Linked DNA regions of Homo sapiens: region 2 is linked to region 1. The links come from fine-mapping of genetic effects on gene expression. A gene starts in region 1. The other region holds a variant in brackets. All regions are shown on one strand. Distances are from middle to middle. Region 1 holds the start of UPP1 (uridine phosphorylase 1). Region 2 has its middle 23 kb from the start of UPP1.

Region 1 (2,917 bases):
TGAGATGGCGTCTCACTGTGTCACCAAGGCTGGAATGCAGTGGCATGATCTCAGCTCACTGCAACCTCTGCCACCCAGGTTCAAGTGGTTCTCCTGCCTCAGCCTCCCAAGTAGCTGGAATTACAGGCACCTGCCACTGTGACCGGCTAGGTTTTTTTTTTTGTTTTTTTTTTTTTTTTACTTTTAGTAGAGACGGGGTTTCACCATCTTGGTTAGGCTGGTCTTGAACTCCTGACTTTGTAATCCACCCGCCTCGGCCTCCCAAAGTGCTGGGATTACAGGTGTGAGCCACTGCGCCTGGCCGTACTTTCATTTTCAATAAAACCCTTAATTCCTTCCTTGATTTGTTTGTGTGTTTCACTCTTGTCACCCAGTATGGAGTGCAATGGCGCGATCTCGGCTCACTGCATCCTTCGCTGGGTTCAAGCAATTCTCCTGCCTCGGCCTGCCTAGTACCTGGGATTACAGGCACGCGACACCACGTCCAGCTAATTTTTTGTATTTTTAGTAGTGACGGGGTTTCACCATGTTGGGCAGGCTGGTCTCGAACTCCTGACCTCAGGTGATCCATCCGCCTCGGCCTTCCAAAGTGCTGGGATTACAGGCGTGAGCCACCACTCCCGGCCCAACCCCATGTTTTCTCAGGAACTGGAGTTCCCTTTAGGAAGCAAGTAACAGAGGTGCTGGGCTGCCCGGGCCTCTAGGTCGTCTTCTTTCCCAGGCTCTGTGCTCTCACCAGAGTGCGCGTTCGGGAAGCAGGGAGAGGACCAGGAAAGACGCCTGAGACGGAGAGTGGGCACCGGCCGGGGGCAGGCAGGTCCGGCCCCTGGGGGTCAGAGTGCAGCGCCGGTTTGAGGCAGTTCGGCCACTTAGCTGCGACTCGAAGTGAATGAGTCACTTCCCCTCCTCGGGCGAGCTCCTGGCTTTGCCCCAGCAAGCGGGAACTCCCAGGATCAGGAAGGTCCCAGAGAAACTCCCCAGGGGGGAAGCCGAGGCCGTCCAGAGAGATCCAGGGTACACACAGTGACAGTGCCAGCTCCACATTCCCGACCACCGGGCCAGGGCTGGTTCCACGCTGTCATTTCTCTCCGCTGGCCCCAGCCGCGGGGCCACCGCCAGACAGACAGACCGGGGATCCTGCCTGGCGGCGTGACCTTGGGTTAGTCCTAGAGCCGCTTCTAGCCCGGTTTCCTCCGCCCCAGGTTAGGACCACGTGGGTAAGAAGATTTCCTCTGTAGTAGGGGCTGTTTAATGAGTAACAGAACTGGCTGCTGGTTCTTTACAATTGCCCAGCTGCTCTGCAGAGGCGAGAAGCAATTGCGGGCTGAGCCTCCCGGGACCTTCGCGGGAGGGTGGAGAGGAGGAAGGCGGGGGAGGCGGGGCCAGAGGGGCAGAGGAAGGTGGGGGCGGGCGGGGCTTGTCTGCGGGATGGCCCAGGATGCGGTCAGCTGAGTTCGCCGGCCCAGGGCAGGCGGGGCCCGAGCCTAGCGGTAACCCCCGGGCAGGGCGGGGCCGCTCGCAGACTCCATATGAGATTCACCTCGCAGGTGGTTCCCTCATTCGAGTGCTCCGGCGCACAGACCCGCGCCCCGCCGTCTGCGAGCCTCCCGAGAGCCGTCCCTTCGTCCGGCCCTGGAGCATTGCGTTTGTCGCCGGTGTCGCAGTGCGAGGATGGCGCCGCGGGTGTAGCGGCTCTCTGCGCAGGCCGAGTGGTGAGTCGCCCGCGGCCCGGCTCCCGCCGTTCTCTCTTCCCAGGGGTCTAGCCCGTCCCCTGCCTTGGCCACGTGCCCATTTACCTGTAGGGGCGGTGACGGAGGCTCTGGTGCACCTTGGCTGTGAGCTGCAGAGGAGCAGAGAGCGGCCCGGCGCGGCTGCGCGGGGAGGCGGGCGCGCGGCCGGGAGGTTCTGGGGCTGGTGTGTGCGGAGCGAGGTGGGCGTGGGGGAAGCGCGCGGGCGGGATGTGCTTCCTCGGGTCCACCCCGTGCCTACCTCTCCCACGTCCCGGCGACGGAGCGCGCGGGGCTCTGGGCGGGGAGCCCACCGGGCCGAGGCGCAGCGAGGGTGAAGCCAGAGCCGGCAGGGTCAGGTCCCGCAGGGCGCAGGCGGGCGCTTCTCGCAGCCCAAACCCGGGCGGGGAGTGCGGGAACCCCTAGAACTATGCTGGGAGCCCCAGATAAGAGGAAGGAGATGGTGACTTAAGTGACGAAGTGATGTTTTGTCCCCACCGCCTTTTAAAGGGAGAAGGGGGTAAAATTTCATTTGGAGGATGATTGTTACGCGAGCTTTCAGAGTTCAGATGGCGTCAAGTGGCCATCGAGTCAACATTTAACAAAATGTTACCGCATAAAATATTGTCATCGAGTTATCTGGCAGCTCCGCAGAGAAACTTCACAGGCATATGCGTTATATGACATAATTTGCATGGGGAAGGGGGTCCCTTCACGATTCTTTTATATGGCAACCTGTTCTTGGACCTGGCAGGGCCCAGAGAAGCGAGGAACTCCGCAGCTCGTCGACACGTCTCGTCTCCTGTCCCAATTCAGGGCTTGGTGAGGTGACTCGCGGTCGCGGGTGACTCGCCGGCAGGACACTGCCTGGAACGCCTGGAGCGCCTCCCACTGCAGACGTCTGTCCGCCTCCAGCCGCTCTCCTCTGACGGTCAGTTTCAAAGAAACACAGTCTGGGATCCGGAGTAGAAAGAGGCCGTTTCCCGTGAAGGCCATAGAGGCAGTTTCCAGGCGCCTGGGTGACCTGTCTCTGCACTTCCCTCTCTGCTTCTCCATCCCTGTTTCCTTTCCCCACTGTCCCCTGCCTGGCCTTTCTTTGGCTCATTTTCTGCCTTCCTGGGGTCTTCTGGTTAAAAAGACCATTGGTTCCATTCATTGGCTGTAACCGCGGGTCTTTAAAAAACTTTGTG
Region 2 (2,917 bases), 23 kb before region 1:
GGCTATAGAAGAACAGTTTCAAACTTGTAAGAATGAGCCTTTTCTGAAGCACCAGCTAGAGGATGAGACTGACTCAGCTAAAAATCACTGAAGAAAATTCAGCAAAAGGACCACTGATGAGCACTTAATATAGTTAATTGTGGACCTGAAACTAAAATAAAAGTGGGGAAAACATGAAAGAGTAATATATAAATGTTCTATGTTCTGACAAACTAGAAATAACATAACTAAAATTTTAGAAAAGGAAAAGATAAATCTAAAATAAACCCTTTGGTGGATAGGTCATACACAGTACTCAAAGAATACCATTAGAAACTGACAAAACAGATAGTAAAAAATTAAATAAGAAAACAGAAATAAGGGCACTAAGAAAGACATAAGTTAAAAAAATAAAAACAAAACATTACAGAGAAAGAAAAATAGTAAATATAATACTCATAATAATTACAATAATGTGACTGAATTAAGACTACACCTGTAAGTCATATCAATAAATGCAAATGAGCTTAACTCATCTGTTAAAAGATTTTCATTTTGGTTTACAAAGCAAGACACAAATGTCATATGCTGGAGACATGAGACACATCTGAAACAAAGGATTCAGAAAGGCTAAAAATGAAATGATGAGCAAAGGCATACCAGGAAAACAGAAATAATAGAAAACACAGGTAGCAATATTTATGTCATACAAAGTAAAATTCAAGCAATAAACATTACATGAGACAAATAAAGAACTTTTTAATACTAAAAGCCAGAAGTCATGGGAAAGACAGTACAGTTATGAATATCTAAGTATCGAGTATAACAGAGACCACTTTTATGAGGCAGGAACTACAGGAAATGCAAGGAGTCAACTACTAATAGGATACTTTAACAGATCACTCTCAGTGCAATTCAGATCAACCAGAAAAAGATAACAAAGGTTATAGAAGGCCTAAGCAGTGTAATCAATATGATAGGTCGTACGGATATATATCAAAAGTTAAGATGCGATAATAGAATGTATACCTTCAAATGCATGCACAGAATATTCACATAAATAGTTGTTATACTGGAACACAATAATGTAGAAATGTGCAAATACTACTCTGACCACAGCTCAATAAACCTGGAAATTAATCACAAAATCAATAAACTTAAAAAAATTCCCACCAGGAAATTTTTGAAAACCTGCACAACTTATATTTAATGCCCTTGATGAAAGAGAAAGTACTAACCTAAATTACAAAATTTCTAAAAATAAATATAATAAAAATTCTCCTAGTAAGGACCTATGAGAACTAGACCTAACACATATATACAGAGCACTACACCCAACGACAGCAGAA[T/G]GCAAATTCTTCTCATGTGTACATGGAACATTCTTTAAGACAGAGCATACATTAGGCAACAAAATAAGCCTCAAGAAATCTAGTAAGATGGACATCATACAGCGTATCTTCTCCAGCCACAATGGACTGAAACCAGAAATTAATAACAGGAAAACTGGAAATTTCACAAATATGTGGAAATTAAACAACACATATGTAAGTGACCAGTTGGTCAAAGAAGACATCACAGGGAAATTAGGAAATAGTTTGAGATGAATGAAACAAAAGCACAGTATATAAAAACTTATGGAGGCCAGGCTCAGTGGCTCACGCCTTAATCCCAGCACTTTGGGAAGCCGAAGTGGGTGGATCACCTGAGATCAGGAGTTCAAGGCGAGCCTGGCCAACATGGTAAAATCCCTACTAAGAATACAAAAATCAGCTGGGCAGGGCAGTGCATGCCTGTAATACCAACTACTGCAGAGGCTGAGGCAAGAGAATCGCTTGAACCCAGGAGGCGGAGGTTGCAGTGAGCCGAGATTGCACCACTGCACTCCAACCTGGGCGACAGAATGAGACTCCGTCTCAAAAAAACAGAAAACAAAAACAAAAACCAAAAAAACACTTATGGGATGCAGTGAAAGCAATGGTCAGAAATTATAAATTTAGACAATTTAGAAATTTTCATTATAAGTTTAGAAATTTATAATTCCTGACCACTGCTATCACTGCATCCCATAAGTTTTTTTAAAGTTTTTATATGTTGTACTTTTTTAATGTAAACAAATACATGAAAAAAGAATAAAGATCTCAAATCTGTAACCTATCTTTACATTTTGAGGAACTATAATAAGAACAAACTGAACCCAAAGTTAGCAGAAGGAAGGGAATGATCAAGATTAAAGCAGAAGTCAACAAAACAGAGAATAGGAAAAAATACACACTCAATGAAACCAAAGTTGGTTCTGTGAACAGATTAACAAAACTGACAAACTGTTAGCTAGAATGATGAAGAAAGAAAGAGAGAAAACTCATATTACCAAAAAAAGAAATAAAAGTAAAGACATTGCTACCAACATTAAAGAAATTAAAAAGGATTATAACACTATGAACAACTGTACTCCAATAGAATTAGATAACCAAGATGAATGGACAAATTCTTAGAACACTCATATTACAAAAAGTGACTCAAGAAGAAATAAGAAAATATGAACAGATCTATAAAAATTAAAGATACTGACCCAGTAATCAAAAACCTCCCAATAATGGAAGTAGTTTTCACTAATTACCAGTTATGAACAACAATCTTTCTCCAGCTCTTCTAAAAATCGTAAAGGAAGGAATACTTCCTAACTCATGAGGCCAGCATTACTTTGATCCCAAAGTCAGATAAAGGACATTGCAAAAAAAGAAAATTACTATCCAATATTCCTTATGAATATAGATGCAAAAATATTTAACAAAATACTGTCAAACTGAATCCACTAGCATATTAAAAGAATTAAATGTCATGACCAAGTGGGATGTATCCTAAGAATGCAAGGCTGGCTAAATTAATCAATCACATTGAGGGAATGAAAGGAAAAAAAAACCATAATCATCTAAATTCA

The links.
Region 2: its variant is fine-mapped to the expression of UPP1 in whole blood (INTERVAL, PIP above 0.99).

The regions. Positions count from the first base shown.
Region 1 is chr7:48,087,707-48,090,623 of GRCh38, forward strand. UPP1 (uridine phosphorylase 1) reads left to right here and starts at 1,559. Exons shown (of 9, transcript NM_003364.4): 1 at 1,559-1,712; 2 at 2,482-2,658. RefSeq lists enhancers at 562-1,091, 904-1,113, 1,624-2,153 and silencers at 1,254-1,593, 1,934-2,123.
Region 2 is chr7:48,064,568-48,067,484 of GRCh38, forward strand. No RefSeq gene overlaps it. Among named protein-coding and RNA genes, the nearest start is that of UPP1, 23 kb to the right of the region's middle. The variant T/G (reference allele first, on the strand shown) is at 1,329.